3 separate regions of the Homo sapiens genome follow, and all the other regions are linked to region 2. The links come from fine-mapping of genetic effects on gene expression. A gene starts in region 2. Each other region holds a variant in brackets. All regions are shown on one strand. Distances are between the middles of the regions.

Region 1 (5,524 bases), 42 kb after region 2:
GGCTAACACGGTGAAACCCCGTCTCTACTAAAAATACAAAAAAATTAGCTGGGAGTGGTGGCAGGTGCCTGTAGTCCCAGCTACTTGGGAGTTTGAGGCAGGAGAATGGCGTGAACCCGGGAGGCAGAGCTTGCAGTGAGCAGAGATCACGTCATTGCACTCCAGCCTGGGTGACAGAGCGAGACTCCAGAAAAAAAAAAAAAAAAAAAGGAGGGAGGGAGGGAGGAAGGAAGGAAGGAAGGAAAAGAAAGAAAGAAAGAAAGAGAAAGAAAGAGAAAAAGAAAGAAAGAAAAGCAAAGAAAATGTATAGATGTATAGGCCAGGCATGGTGGCTCATGCCTATAATCCTAGCACTTTGGGAGGCCAAGGCAGGCGGATCCCTTGAGCTCAGGAGTTCGAGACCAGCCCGGGCAACATGGCAAAACCATGTCTCAAAAAAAAAATTAAGTAGTTAAATATATATAAAATATTTATATAATACATTTTAAACTTAATCACCAACATCAATGCTGAAATAAATCCGGGGAAGGAGGAAGAGAGGAGAAGACAATAGGAAGTTAGACAGGAGGGGAGAAGAGTGAGGAGGAGGAAAGGAAGAAATGTATGTATGTATGAGTAAAATACGTATACGTTTGTGAGTGTGCGTGCATTATTTTCTTTTGCGTGTGTGTGCATGCGTTTTTGGTTCAGTGGATAAGGAGCCTAACATGGCCAGGTGGCAATCTCAGCTTCTGACTAAGTGGAACCATTGTTGTCTGCTGGTAGAAACACTCCTCTCTTGGGGACCAAGACCTTTACCCCAGCAGAGCTCCAAGTTTCAGGAACCGGAAATGACAATTCTGTGGGTGATGACTCAGTGCAGTCATGATTCCTGGCTGTGTGTTCTGTCATGGAATGTGCGGGTCTCTGAGTCACCACACACTGTATCCTACAAGACAGAGCCTCATCTTTTCAGCGTGTTTCCTCCCAACTGGGGTTGTACCTGAGCCTTCAGGAGGTCATGCCACCACCATGCTGCTGGACCAGCTGTTTCTGGGTGGAGGGGTATCTCAGAGACAATAAGGGCCTACTCTGCCCTGGAAGATCCTCCACTAGGTCATGGAGGAAGCCCACCCAGCAGTCCTCTCCTGTGCTGCTGAGCCAGGCTGGGGGCTGAAGGCAAAGGGTGGTGGAACATCACCTTTGACCCCAGCTTGGTCTAAAGTCCCCAAATGTGATCCCCTCCAGGCTAAAATATCAGGGGGCGTTCATTCTATTTGAGTCTGGGAGGAAACAACAGGGATTGATCACAGTGAAGGCTCAGTGAGAAACAAGAAATGCACACCTCCACAACCCTGCAGGGTAATATTCAAAATAAAGAGCATGACTCCCCACAACAATGTGAATGCACTGAACACTCCTGAACTGTACACTTACACATGGCCAGAAGGATCGATTTTTATCTTGTGTATATTTTACCACAATTTTTTTGTGTTTTGAGCCAGGGTCTCGCTCTGTTACCCAGGCTGGAGTGCAGTGGCTCAAAATGCCTCCCAGAGTGCTGAAATTCAGGCATGAGCCGCTGCACCCGGTCTTATTATTTTTTAATAGAGAGAGGGTCTTGCTATGTTGCTGAGGCTGGTCTCTAACTCCTGGCCTCAACCAATCCTCTGGCATCAGCCTCTCAAAGTGTAGAAATTACAGAAGCGAACCACTGCACCAGGCTTGTTTTACCATGACTAAATTAAAATAATAATAATGAGATGGGAAGTGTGAGGTAAGGTCAGTGTATTACTCCATTTTCACACTGCTATGAAGAAATACCCTAGACTGGGTAATTTATCAGATGAGATTGTGCGTATTCAGGGTGGTACAGCCATCCACGAGACTGGGTAATTTATAAAGAAAAGAGGTTTAATTGACTCACAGTTCTGCATGGCTGGAGAGGCCTCAGGAAACTTACAACCATGGCAGAAGGCACCCCTTCACAAGGCGGCAGGAGAGAGAATGAGCACTAGCAGGGGAAATGCCAGACACATAAAACCATCAGATCTCATAAGACACACTCATTATCATGAGAACAGCATGGGAGAAACCGCCCTCCATGATCCAGTTACTTCCACGTGGTCCCGCCCTTGACATGTGGGGATTATTACAATTCAAGGTGAGATTTGAGTGGGGATACAGAGCCAAACCATATCATTCTGCCTCTAGCTCCTCCCAGATCTCATCTCCTCACATTTCAAGACACAATCATGCCCTTCCAACAGTCCCCCAGAATCTAAACATACTCCAATACTAACCCAAAACTCCAAGTCCAAAGCCTCATCTGAGACAAGGCAAGTCCCTTCTGCCTATGAGCCTGTAAAATCAAAAGCAGGTTAGTTATTTCCTTCCTGACACAATGCAGGTACAGGCATTGGGTAAATTCACCCATTCAAATGGGAGAAGCTGGCCAAAATAAAGGGGCTATAGGCCCCATGGAAGTCTGAAATTCAATAGGGAAGTCACTGAACCTTTAAGTTCCAAAATGATCTTTGACTCCATGTCTTGCATCCAGGTCATGCTGATGCAAGAGGTGGGCTCCCATGGCCTTGGGCCGCTCTACCCCTGTGTCTTTGTGGCATATAGCTCCTCTTCCTGGCTGCTTTCACAGGTTAGTGTTGAGTGTTTGTGACTTTTTCAGGCACACAGTGCAAGCTGTTGGTGTATCTACTGTTTTGGGGTCTGGAGGATGGTGGCCCTCTTCTCACAGCTGCTCTATACAGTGCCCCAGTGGGGACTCCGTGTGGTGGCTCCAATCCTACATTTCCCTTCTGCACTGCCCTGGCAGAGGTTCTCCATGAGGGCTCTGCCCCTGCAACAAACTTCTGCCTGGACATCCAGGCATTTCTATACATCCTCTGAAATCTAGGCAGAGGTTCTCCAACCTCAATTCTTGACTTCTGTGTACCTGCAGGCCCAACACTTCGTGTACGCCACCAAGGCTTGGGGCTTGCACCCTCTGAAGCAATGGCCTGACCTGACCTTGGCTCCTTTTAGCCATGGCAGGAGCTGAAACAGCTGGGACACAGGGCACTATGTCCCAAGGTGGCATAGAGCAGTGGGACCCTGGGCCCAGCCCAGGAA[A/T]CCATTTTTCTCTCCTAGGCCTCAGGTCCTGTGATGAGAGGGGCAGCCGTGAAGGTCTCTCACATGCCCTGGAGACATTTTCCCCATTGTCTTGGTGGTTAACATTCAGCTCTTCATTAGGCAAATTTCTGTAGGCAGCTTGAATTTCTCCCCAGAAAATGGCTTTTTCTTTTCTATCACATTGTCAGGCTGCAAATTTCCTGAACTTTTATGCTCTGCTTCCTCTTGAACACTTTGCCGCTTAGAAGCTTCTTCTGCCAGATACCCCAAATCATCTTTCTCAAGTTCAAAGTTCCACAGATCTCTAGGGCAGGGGCAAAATGCTGCCAATCCCTTTGCTAAAGCATAGCAAGAATGACCTTTACCCGAGTTCCCAACAAGTTCTTCATCTCCACCTGAGATCACTTCAGCCTGGACTTCATTGTTCATACCACAATCAGCATTTTGGGCAAAGGCATTCAACAAGTCTCTAGGAAGTTCCAAACATTCCCACATCTTCCTGTCTTTTGAGCCCTCCAAGTCTCTAGGAAGTTCGAAACTTTTCCACATTTTCCTGTCTTCTTCTGAGCCCTCCAAACCGTTCCAACCTCTGCCTGTTACCCAGTTCCAAAGTTGCTTCCGCATTTTCAGTTATGCTTATAGCAGCACCCAACTCCTGCTACCAATTTACTGGTCTGTTCTCATTCTGCTATGAAGAAATACCCAAGACACTGGGTTTTGTTTTGTTTGTTTTTTTGTTTGTTTGTTTGTTTGTTTTTGAGAGGGAGTCTCGCTCTGTCACCCAGGCTGGAATGCAGTGGTGCGATCTTGGCTCACTGCAACCTCTACCTCCAGGTTTAAACAATTCTCCTACCTCAGCCTCATGAGTACCTGGAGTTACAAGCACCTGCCACCACACCTGGCCAATTTTTGTATTTTAGTAGAGATGAGGTTTCGCCATGTTGACCAGGCTGGTCTCGAACTCCTGACTCAAGTGATCCACCCACCCTGGCCTCCCAAAGTGGTGGGCTTACAGGCATAAGCCACTGCACCTGGCCAAGACTGGTTAGTTTATAAAGAGGTTTAATTGACTCACAGTTTCACATAGCTAGGGAGGCCTCAGGAAACTTAGAATCTTAACAGAAGGCACCTCTTCACAGGGTGGCAGGAGAGAGAATGAGTGCCAGCAGGGCAAATGTCAAACGCTTATAAAACAATCAGAGCTCATGAGACTCACTCATTATCATGAAAACAGCATAGGGGAAAACTGGTCCCATAATACAATTACTGCCACCTAGTCCCACCCTTGACATGTGGGGATTATCACAATTCAAGGTGAGATCTGGGTGGGGACGCAGGGCCAAACCATATCAACTAGGGACCACTGTGACAAAATCTGTGTCTGAACTTGAAACCCATCCAACAAATATGTGTCAACACTAATTGTGCTTAAAAAACACAAATGCCAACCCTAAAGTTCCTCAGATTTCAGGAGAATGTCAGCACCTTCCTTCTTTGCCTTTAGCAATTCAATATTTTAATAGCAGTGTGAAACTTCCTCATGACAAAACCTTTTCTTTTTTTTTTCGAGACGGAGTTTCACTCTTGTTGCCCAGGCTGGAGTGCAGTGGCACGATCTCAGCTCACCCCAACCTCCACTTCCCACGTTCAAGTGATTCTCCTGCCTCAGCCTCCCGAGTAGCTGGGATTACAGGCATGTGCCACCACCCCGGCTAATTTTGTATTTTTAGTAGACAGGGTTTCTCCATGTTGGTCAGGCTGGTCTTGAACTCCTGACGTCAGGTGATTCGCCCACCTCAGCCTCCCAAAGTGCTGGGATTACAGGCGTGAGCCACTGTGCCTGGCCCCCTCCTCCATTTCTGCCCCTGCCTCGAGCCTCTCCAGGGTTTGGGCTTGAGCCCCACCCACTCCTGCCCCAGAAACCCCTCCCAACTTCAGCTCTACTTTTGTAAACTCCAGCCTCTGAGCCCCCTCATCCTGTTCCCTGTCCCAGGGAAGTCCCCCACCTGCCTAACAGGCCTCAGAGCCAAATCAACCCAAATATTTCTTCAACAGGAAACTCAACATCCCAGCCACGCTGGGAAAACAAGGCTTAAAAAAAAATGAGAGGCAATAAAAATCCCCAAATGACTCTGTTCTGTTTTGACAGAGGGGAAAAAAAAACAGGATTTCACAAACTGGATTTTTGGCATTGCAAAATGGTCATCAACTCTCCCAACTTCCCAAGAGACTGAAAGGAAAATTCCCAGAGCTTCTTACTTTTTTATTTTCCGTTAAGTGCAGTCCATCTCCTAGTTCAATTACAGAAGGTCAGAACTGAGGTCGAGGGAAAAGAGTTCACATGAAAGAAGGAAGGATAGAAAAGATCAGGCTGGGTGTGATGGTTCACGCCTGTAATCCCAACACTTCCGGAGGC
Region 2 (5,524 bases):
CTCGGCTCACTGCAATCTCTGCCTCCCAGGTTCGAGCAATTCTGCCTCAGCCTCCTGAGTAGCAGGGATGACAGGCAGGCACCACCACATCTGGCTAATTTTTGTATTTTTAGTAGAGATGGGATTTTGCCATGTTGGCCAGGCTGGTCTTGAACACCCGAGCTTAGGTGATCCGCATGCCTCGGCCACCCAAGTGCTGGGATTACAGGCTTAAACCACTGCACCCAGCCAACAGCCTCCGTTTTTTTTTGTTTGTTTGTTTTTGAGATGAAGTCTCGCTCTGTCGCCATACTGGAGTGCAGTGGCATGATCTCAGCTCACTGCAACCTCTGCCTCCCAGGTTCGAGTGATTCTCCTGCCTCAGCCTCCCGAGGAGCTGGGACTACAGGGGCACGCCGCCACGCCCAGCTAATTTTTGTATTTTTAGTAGAGACGGGGTTTCACCATGTTGGCCAGGATGGTCTCGATCTCCTGACCTCATGATCCGCCCGCCTTGGCCTGCCAAAGTGCTGGGATTACAGGCGTGAGCCATTGCGCCTGGCCCAGCCTCCGTTTTTTTCATCTGTAAAATGGGGATAACAGGGTGACCTCAGAGGGTTGTGAGATTAACAAGCTGCAAGGAGACCGTTTCCCCAGACATAGCCAGGAAGAGCTTGTGGGTCTGGGCACAGCTCCAGCGATGGCTATTCTAAGAAAGCCATTCCCTTCTCAATTCTCTTTAATCCCTTTGCTTAAGTCCAGGGGCAAGTCTTTGCTGGGTGCTGGCCTGCCTTGAATATCTCTCTACACCTTTCGAATCTTCCTTTTTTTTCTTTTTTTGAGACGGAGTCTCACTCTGTCGCCCAGGCTGGAGTGCAGTGGCGCGATCTCGGCTCACTGCAAGCTCCGCCTCCCGGGTTCACGCCATTCTCCTGCCTCAGCCTCCTGAGTAGCTGGGACTACAGGTGCCCGCCACCACGCCTGGCTGATTTTTTTGTATTTTTAGTAGAGACGGGGTTTCACCTTGTTAGCCAGGATGGTCTCGATCTCCTGCCCTTGTGATCTGCCCGCCTCGGTCTCCCAAAGTGCTGGGATGAATCTTCCTTTTAACAAGGAGAGGGCAGGAGGAACTCAGCTCTTGGAGGGGCAACAGGACCTACCCGGGCTTTATAACATTGTTTTAGTTTTATTTTTACTGTTGCCTTCTAGTCTCTGAGATACTGGTGTTCCATTTAGGGTAGCAATACAAAGTTTCTCTGAAAAATACATTTGTGATCATGGAAAAGCCAACATAAAGCAAAAGCATTAAAAGTATTACAAGTGGGCCAGGTGCCGTGGCTCACATCTGTAATCACCACACTGTGGGAGGCTGAGGCGGGTGAATCACTTGAGGTCAGGAGTTCAAGACCAGCCTGGCCAACATGGTGAAACCCTGTCTCTACTAAAAATACAAAAATTAGCCATGGTTGTGCATGCCTGTAGTCCCAGCTACTCAGGAGGCTGAGGCAGGAGAATCACTTGAAACCAGGAGACAGAGGTTTCAGTGAGCCGAGATGGTGTCACTGCACTCCAGCCTAGGTAACAGAGTGAGTCTCTTCTCAAAAAAAAAAAAAAAAAAAAAAAAAAATGAGTATTACCAGTGGAGAAAGGGTCCGCATTCATTCTTTTTTTTTTTTTTTTTTTTTTTTTTTTTGAGACAGAGTCTGGCTCTTGTCACCCAGGCTGGAGTGCAGTGGCATGATCTAGGCTCACTGCAACCTCCACCTCCTGGGTTCAAGTGAGCATGTCCAGCTAATTTTTGTATTTTGTAGAGATGGAGTTTCACCATGTTGGCCAGGCTGGTCTTGAACTTCTGATCTCAGGTGACCTGCTTGCTTTGGCCTCCCAAAGTGCTGGGATTACAGGCGTGAGTGCTTGCCTGGCCTCTTGTTTCCGTTTTAAGATGGGAGAAGTAACAGCCTGTGATGGGAATGACCCAGGGAGAATGGAGAGAGGGCAGGGTTTCGGGATCAGTGTTGGCGTGAAGGGTCGGGATCTTCTGGAGGGGGTGGTCGTGGCCAGGAGCTGGACGGGTTCAGCCCGGTCCCAAGAGGGAAGGGACTGGGTGCTACCTCAGCGGGTGGGTGGGGGAGCTGGTGGGAATTTTCTACTGATTCCTTCATTCGAAGTGTATTTATTGGGCACCCATTGAGTGCCAGGCTCTTTCTCAGGGCTAGGATAGAGGTTCCATTTTCTCAGTGGCTTGGGCACTGGGTCATCAGCTGAGTGAGAGGATGGGCGTCAGCACTCAAGAAGTCACCCAATGGTTTCATTTTTTGCAGTCTTTGTTGTCCCAGAGGAGTAAGAACTAAAAGCACCAGGACTGTGACATGCTGGAAACATGGCATGTTCCAAAGAGAATAAAATACAGTTTTATGATACACGAATTGTGTGTGATACATTCCAATTTCTCACATTGAACAAATTACCAATAGCAATATGTGTGAAGATGGGGCGAGGTGAGAGTGAGGAGGAGGAGTAGAGAAAGGACGGGGCGGCGTTAAGGATACAGCAAATAACTGGAATTCCGCAAACACTGGGGTGATGCAGGCAATGCCCTTAGCACGGTCCCGGCAGGAGGCGGTGGGATCAGGCCGACCCGGGTCCCAGGGGTGACAGCGTCCCTTCTCCACTGCAGAATATCGAGGTACTCAACCCTCTGAACCTCAGTTTTCTCATCAGTTCAATGGGGAAAACGGGATGGTAACCCGTAATACTGGCGGCGCGGAGGCCGGGGAGCGCTCCCTACCTGTTGGCCGGCGGACTGGGGACTGTCCGCACCCGCCCCGGGGAGCAGCGAGGGCGCGCGGGCGGGGTCGCGGGGACCCCGCAAGGGCTCTGGGGACCGGGACCCGCAGGGTAGGTCGGGACGGGCGGGGCGGGGCGGCCTGACCCCGCCCCGGGCCGGAGGGGCGGTGCTGCCTCCCGCCGGGCCCCAGGCACTGCCCTCCGGCCGCCGCGCCGCCCGCCCGCCGGGGCCCCGCTGTCCGCCGCCCGCCGCCGCTGGAGCTAGAGGTACGAGGGGCCGCGCCGATGTTGCGGGGGACGGGGGCTCCAGGGGGATCCTGCGGCTCGCAGTGGGGAGGAGGCGCCTCGGGAAGGCAGGGGCAGGGGCGGAGGGGCTGGGCCGCCGCCCTAGCCCGGGCCACCTGTTCTGGAGGCGACATTTGTGCGCGCACGAACCCCGCGCGGCGGTCCCGGCCACCGCCTCCACCCCAACTGCGCCCCGAAGTGGAGCGCGGCGGCGGGACCCGGAGCCCCGGCCCTCGCGGGCAGGACGCGCCTGGCTCCGGAGCCCTCGAGGGCAGCCCCACCCGGTTGGGTCCCGGGGCTGGAGAGAGGGCGTCGGGGAGAAGCCGGGTTCGAGGCAGGCTCTGCCCGGCCACCGTGGGTGAGTCGCGCTCCTCCGTCCGGGGGAAGCCTGGGCGTCGGGCGGTGCTCGCCCCGGAGCGGATGCGACCGGGGACGGGGATGGAGAGCGGCCGGCAGGAGGGGGCTCTGCCGGGCTGGCAGCGTCGGCGCCGGCCTTAGGGAGGGTGAGGATTTGGACCTGCCCAGAAGCGGGAAGGGCCCTCCCCGTGCGGGAAACGGCCTGGGTACGAGCTGGGCACGGGGCGAGCCGGTTGGAGTCGCCCGGCCTCCGCGCTCGCCTCGGATCCGCAGGCGCCCCTCCCTCCTCTCCAGCTGGGGAAGGTTGAGGACTGAGCGGGAGCGGAACTGGGCTTGGGAGAGGATCTGCCGGGGCACCTGGTCCCAGCGCCCATCCCGTTTCACTGCCAGGGCGAGTCCCCTTCCCTCAGTTTCATCACCTGTCATCCGGAGGGACAAGTTCCCACCTGGATAGTCTCGGCTGAGCCTCTGGCCCTGAGTGGGTTAAAGCGCCATTTCCCCTGCACCCACCTTTCCCTCACGACACCCTCTCTGCGGCTTCCTCCCCTCCGCCAACGTCGAGTGATTGTTCCGCGAAGGCCCCTTGGGGTCACGTACCCTGCACTCAGCAAATAACCCCGAGCACCTGGTGGGTCTCAGGCCAGGTCTGGCCTTCCCGTTCCCGCCACCAGCTGCCCAAAGACTTCCCCTTTGTCACCTCCTCCCAAAGAATGAGGGAGCCACCCTGCCCAGGGTCCCATAGCAGAGTGCGGATGGAGCCAGGCCTCCCTCAAGATTTCCCACAGCCCTCTTCCAGCCTCAAACCTTCTCCAGGACCCGAAACCCTGCTACACTGTGTTTCCATAGCTGCAACCCCCCAAAAGAGGGTCCCCAAATCAAAGGAATACAAAGGAAAACAAAATAGAAAGGAAAAGAAAGGAAGAGGAGAGATGGAATCCTCTCTGTCATTAGTTTTCTGTTTGTTTGTTTTTTAGGGTCTCCCTCTGTCACCCAGGCTGGAATGCTGTGGCAGCTCACTGTAGTCTCAAACTGCTAGGCTCAAGCGATCCTCCCACCCCAGCTTCCCTAGTGGCTGAGACTGCAGGCACACACCACTACACCCAATGTTGTCATTAGTTTTTCTCTCAAACATTTTTCTAATGCCTTGGGTGCCTGTCGTTTCTTGTCTGCTAGGACAGCTCAGTATTAGAGGATAAACTCCAAAATGGACAGCCATCTACAAAATATGTTTTGTTTCCTTGTACTAATTGAAGCCCTCTAGCTGCTAGGTTAATGGGTCCATTAATTTCCAGTTCGTGTGATGGGCCCTGGGACCCCAGTGTGGAGCAGGATTGGCAGAATCTCCAGGTGGTTTGTGTGGAACACCAGGAGGTTGTGAACTACCACATCAGCCCCAGCTAGCAACTCCCAAGCCCACCTGGCCACGGGGCCACTGGGTTCAGACCTCCAAGGATGCAGTTCAGCTGGGGATGCAGGTCCCGGAAGGTGGTGGCAGGTGGACGGCCTCCACCACCAAGCCAGCCATCTGAGTTCTGAAGTGCACCTCCTCTCACTCTCCCCAGCTGCCTCCTTCTTTGGGGACCTGCTAGGCGTGCTCACAAACTCCTGTTGATCACCCTGCATTTTCATTGGCTCACCGCATGCTTCCCTCCAGATTGGAAGCTCCTGGAGGGAAGGACCCTTGTCCAGATCCCAGAGCCTAGTGCCAGGCCTGGCACCTAGCAGGTGCTTCCTGAATATTGTTTGAATGAATTAACCGAAAGAAGTAGGAAAAACAATTCCTGTTTGCATACTTGAAGACAACTATTGTTAACATTTGCCTTTTTTTTTGCCAGACCTTTAAAAACACGTTTTTCCAGCCGGGCGAGGTGGCTCACGCCTGTAATCCCAGCACTTTGGGAGGCTGAGGCGGGTGGATCACTTGAAGTCAGGAGTTCGAGACCAGCCTGGCCAACTTGGTGAAACCCCCCATCTCCACTAAAAATACAATAAATTAACTGGGCGTGGTGGCACGTGCCTGCAATCCCAGCTACTCAGGAGGCTGAGGCAGGAGAATCATTTGAACCTGGGAGGCAGAGAGTGCAGTGAGCCGAGATGGCGCCACTGCACTCCAGCC
Region 3 (5,524 bases), 35 kb before region 2:
GAGAGGGTCTGTGATAACAGCTGCTGAATGGAGGAGTCATGAGTGCCAGTGCCCGGACTCACCTCCTGCACCACTGCCTGGCCTTGGATCCTACCTTTTCTAGGTGCTCACGTATTCTTGCAAGATCTTTTATTTTATTTTTGAGATGGACTTTCGCTCTTGTCGCCCAGGCTGGAGTGTAGTGACGGGATCTTGGCTCGCTGCAACCTCCACCTCCCGGGTTCAAGTGATTCTCCTGCCTCAGCCTCCCAAGTAGCTGGGATTACAGGTGCCCACCACCACGCCCGGCTAATTTTTTCTCTTTTTAGTAGAGATGGTTTCGCCATGTTGACCAGGCTGGTCTCAAACTCCTGACCTCAGGTGATCCTCCCGCCTTGGCCTCCCAAAGTGCTGGGATTACAGGCGTGAGCCACTGCACCTGGCCTGTCCTTGCCAGATCTTAAGGCCTTGAAGACAGAAACCACGCTGGATCTTTTCTCTCATCCCCAGAGCTCGTTTCTCCAGGCTGGATCTGGGTAGTCCCTGGCTGCTACCAAGGGCTCCTCCGAGGAGTCTGCAGTGATGGAGAAGGAGCCACAAACCCATTTGTCACCTAAATTTCCCAGATGTGCAATGTCAGAGTGGTCCTGATGATTCATAGAAATCTCTCTATGTTCTTTTATTTTTTGTTTTTGTTTTTAGAGACATATCTCACTCTGTCACCCAGGCTAGAGAGCAGTGGTACGATAATGGCTCACTGCAGCCTCGAACTCCTGGGCTCAAGTAATCCTCCCAACTCAGCCTTCAGAGTAGCTGTGACTATAGACAAGCATCATCACACCCGGGTTTTTAGATTTTTTTTGTAGAGACAGGGTCTCATTATGTTGCCCAGGCTGGTCTCAATCTCCTGGCCTCAAGTGATCCTCCCACCTCCCAAAGTGTTGGAATTACAGGTGTGAGCCCGGCTTAGCCCCATGTTCTTAACAATCCTTACATCCTCAGGGGCTGAGCGTGAGCCCCAGGACTGCGCCAGCCAGCTCACCTCAGATGCGGTGTTTGCATCTGATTTGCCGGTTAAAGTCTCCATGTGTTAAATTTGCATTTCCCTTGTTATTACGATATTAGGTTTTATTCCCAATACTCAGAGCTAGAATACATGGCTCAAAGTGATTCACGGAGGCATGCAGGAGTCATGTGATCCCACCACGTGGAACGATCTTGTAAACATAAACAAGGGGCAGGGGAGCCATGCAAATGCAGAGAGGGTCCCCTGCCAGCTAATCCGCAGGTGCAACTGGAAAGAGTAAGCAGGCAGGACAGCCAGGAGCCTGACTGGACAGGCGGGACAGCAGGGACTGACTGGCTCCCACCTAACCCCAGCTCCTGGCAGTGGCTGTGATGCTGCTGTGAGTGCAGAAGAGGCCAGGAGCTCTTTTTTTTTTTTTCCTTTTGAGACAGAGTCTCGCTCTGTCGCCCAGGCTGGAGTACAATGGTGCGATCTCGGCTCACTGCAACCTCTGCCTCCTGGGTTTAAGTGATTCTCCTGCCTCAGCCTCCTGAGTAGCTGGGATTACAGGCATGTGCCACCACGCCCGGGTAATTTTTGTATTTTTAGTAGAGACGGGGTTTCACCATGTTGGTTAGGCTGGTCTCGAACTCCTGACCTCATAATCAGCCTGCGTTGGCCTCCCAAAATGCTGGGATTACAGGCGTGAGACGCTGTGCCCGGCCAGGAGCTCTTTTTCGAAGTGGGCGCTTTGTCTTCTCTAAATTCATAGGGGTTTTTTTTTTCCAGAACAAGCAAAAAATAATTATTTGCAGCAGAAAACGGATTAATTTTTACACTAAAGGCAGAGATGTCCAAATTATAGAGACACCATTCAATGTCCCCTTCCCTCTGGCAAGAAAAGAGAAACAGGTCACACTGTGCTGAGAAGGCAGGAAAACCTGCTTGTTGTGACTGAATTATGTCCCTCCAGATCCACTGGCTGAAACCCTAACTCCCAGTACCTCAGAATGGGACCGTATTTGGAGAGAGGGTAAAGGGGTATTTAAGTTCAAATAAGGTCATATGGGTGAGTATTTAAGTTTTTTAAAAAAGGCCATACTATCCTTATGAGAAGAGATTAGGCTGGGCGTGGTGGCTTACTCCTGTAGTCCCAGCACTTTGGGAGGCCAAGGCAGGCATATCACTTGAGCCCTGGAGTTCGAGACCAGCCTGGGCAACATGGCAAGACCTCATCTCTACAAAAAAATATGAAAATTAGGGCTGGGTGCTGTGGCTCACACCTGTAATACCAGCACTTTGGGAGGCCAAGGCGGGTAGATCACCTGAGGTCAAGAGTTCGAGACCAGCTTAGCCAACATGGTGAAACCCTGTCTCTACTAAAAATACAAAAATTAGCCGGGCGTGGTGGCAGGTGCCTGTAGTCCCAGCTAGTTGGGAGGCTGAGGCACGAGAATTGCTTGAACCGGGGAGGCAGAGGTTGCAGTGAGCTAAGATTGCACCACTGCACTCCAGCCTGGGCACCAGAGTGAGACTCCATCTCAAAAAAGGAAAAAAAAATTAACTGGGCACTGTGGCATGTGCCTGTGGTCCCTGCTACTAGGGGAGCTAAGGCGGGAGGGGCTTGAGCCTGGAAGGTCAACGCTGCAGTGAGTCAAGATTGCACCACTGCACTCCAGCCTGGGTGACAGAGCGAGAACCTGTCCCCCCAAGAAAAGAAGAAGAAGGGATGAGGACATAAACACACACAGAGGGAAGGCAGCACAAAGACTCGGGAATGAGAAGGTGGCCATCTCCAAGTCAAGGACAGAGGCCTCAAAAGACACCAACCCCACTGACACCCTGATCTTAGACTTCTGGCCTCTAGAGTTGTGAGAAAATAAATTTCTATTATCACAGTGGTGCACACCTGTAGTCCCAGCTACTCAGGAGACTGAGGCAGGAGGATCGCTTGAGCCCAGGAGTTTGAGGCTGTAGGGCTCTGTGATTGCATTTATGAATATCCCCACCGCCCTCCTGCCTGGCAAAACAGTAAGACTCTGTCTCTTTAAAAGATAAATAAATAAATAAATA[T/AATAAATAT]TAAAGTAAACTGTTGTTTAATCTACCCAGTCTGTGGTATTTTGTTACGTCAGCCTAAGCTGACTCATACAGTGCCCCAGAGTTCATCTCAGATATTATGTTCAGAAAGTATGATGTTCTATTAGCAAATTTTTTTTTTTTTTGAGAGGAGTTTTGCTCTTGTTGCCCAGGCTGGAGTGCAATGGTGTGACCTTGGCTCACCACAACCTCCGCCTCCCAGGTTCAAGTAATTCTCTTGCCTCAGCCTCCCGAGTAGCTGGGATTACAGGCATGCACCACCACGCCCAGCTAATTTTTGTGTTTTATAGTAGAGACGGGGTTTCTCCGTGTTGGTCAGGCTGGTCTCGAACTCCCGACCTCAGGTGATCCACCCCGCCTCGGCCTCCCAAAGTGCTGAGATCACAGGCGTGAGCCACCGTGCCCGGCAGCAAATTTTTTTTTTTGAGACAGGTCTTGCTATGTTGCCCAGGCCGGTCTCGAACTCCTGGGCTCAAGCAATCCTCCTGCTTCAGCTTCCCAAAGTGCTGGGATTTGCCACGTGCAGTGGCTCACGCCTGTAATCACAGCACTTTGGGAGGTTGAGGCGAGTGGATCACCTGAGGTCAGGAGTTCGAGACCAGCCTGGTTAACATAGTGAAACCCCGCCTCTACTAAAAATACAAAAAAAAATTAGCTGGCCATGGTGGTGGGGCAGGCGCCTGTATTCCTATCTACTTGCAAGGCTGAGGCAGAGGGATCGCTTGAACCCGGGAGGCGGAGGTTAAGATCGCACCACTGCACTCCAGCCTGGGCAACAGCACAAGACTCTATCGCAAAAAAAGAAAAAAAAAAAAAAAGAAAGAAAGTCATCAGTCCAAAGTGCTGGGATTACAGCTATGAGCCACAGTGCCCAGCCCAATGACTAGCAATATTTTGACATTTTGACAAAGCTACCAATGTCTTGGCTCTCAGCCCCTATGCAGAGCAGGAGTGAGGGAGGAATGTTTGATGACTTTGTTCTGCTTATCACTGAGCACCCAAGCTCAGGGAAGGGCTGTGCGTGCGTGTGTGTGTGCGCGTGTGTGTGTTTATCCATGGCCCTGCAAATCAGGAGCCCAGGCTATGTGGCCCCTCCAGCATGAGTGCTGCTTCTCGATTTGACCAGGCTGAGGATCAAGTCAATGATTTTTTTTTTTTTGAGACAGAGTTTTGCTCTTGTCACCCAGGCTGGAGTGAGATCTCCAATGGTGAGATCTTGGCTCCTAGGTTCAAGTGATTCTCCTGCCTCAGCCTCCCGAGTAGCTGGGATTACAGGTGCCCACGCCTGGCTAATTTTTGCATTTTTCGTTTTTTTTAGTTTTTTGTTGTTCTTGTTGTTTGTTTTGAGACAGAGTCTTGCTCTGTCATCAGGTTGCGGTGCAGTGGCACGATCTTGGCTCACTGCAACCTCCGACTCCCCAGTTCAAGCGATTCTCCCGCCTCAGCCTCCCAAGTAGCTGGGATTACAGGCACACACCACCACACTCAGCTAATTTTTTTGTAATTTTAGTAGAGACAAGGTTTCACCATGTTGGCCAGGATGCTCTCGATCTCCTGACCGCGTGATACGCCCGCCTCGGCCTCCCAGAGTGCTGGGATTACAGGCGTGAGCCACCTCACCTGGCCAATAATGTATTTTTAGCTACATCTAAATGCTTTGCCAGAGAAAGAACCTTCTCCAAAGCCAAATGTCACCAGAGAGAGGCTTAAAACTCAGCTAGCCAGGCACACGCCCGGGTCAAGAGGGTGACGTGCTGCTGGTGCGTCGCCAGGACCACACCATGGGCAGCCTCCTGAGGAAACATCACCAGCTTCTGAGGCCAGCTTTTACCCGAACACCCAGAAGGGTCCCGTCTTAGCCCATCTGGGCAGGTGTGACAAATACCCCAGGACCAGGAGGCTTCTAAACAACAGACACTTCATTCTCAAAGTCCTAGAGGCCGGAAAGTCCAAAAGTCAAGGCACTGGCAGATTCTGTGTCCCGTTCAGAATTAGTCATTCTATTTATATATTTATTTTTAGGCCAGGCACGGTGGCTCACGCCTGTAATCCCAGCACTTTGGGAGGCCAAGGTGGGCAGATCGCTTGAGCCCGGGAGTTCAAGACCAGCCTGAGTAACATAGTAAGACCTCATCTCCACAAAAAATCAAAAAAATTAGCCAGGCATGGTGGCATGTGCCTGTAGTCCCAGCTACTTGGAAGGCTGAGGCAGGAAGATCACCTGAGCCTGGGAGGTTGAGGCTGCAGTGAGCCATGATTGCAACACTGCACTCTAGCCAGGGCAACAGAGGGAGACCCTGTCTCAAAAAAAATGTAAAGAAAGGCCAGGCGCGGTGGCTCATGCCTGCAATCCCAGCGCTTTGGGTGGCCAAGGTGGGTGGATCACTTGAGGTCAGGATTTCGAGACCAGTCTGGTCAACATGGTGAAACCTTGTCTCTACTAAAAAT

What was found. PIP is the estimated chance that this variant, and not a neighbour inherited with it, causes the effect.
Region 1: its variant is the best candidate, but not a certain one, in a credible set for the expression of A4GALT in fibroblasts (GTEx, PIP 0.56).
Region 3: its variant is the best candidate, but not a certain one, in a credible set for the expression of A4GALT in monocytes after R848 (Quach 2016, PIP 0.73).

The regions. Positions count from the first base shown.
Region 1 is chr22:42,676,135-42,681,658 of GRCh38, reverse strand. No RefSeq gene overlaps it. Among named protein-coding and RNA genes, the nearest start is that of CYB5R3, 30 kb to the right of the region's middle. The variant A/T (reference allele first, on the strand shown) is at 3,109.
Region 2 is chr22:42,718,306-42,723,829 of GRCh38, reverse strand. It overlaps A4GALT (alpha 1,4-galactosyltransferase (P1PK blood group)), which reads left to right and starts at 2,960. Exons shown (of 3, transcript NM_017436.7): 1 at 2,960-3,033. RefSeq lists silencers at 2,861-3,050, 3,081-3,310, 3,391-3,520.
Region 3 is chr22:42,753,376-42,758,899 of GRCh38, reverse strand. No RefSeq gene overlaps it. Among named protein-coding and RNA genes, the nearest start is that of A4GALT, 35 kb to the right of the region's middle. RefSeq lists a silencer at 1-37. The variant T/AATAAATAT (reference allele first, on the strand shown) is at 3,059.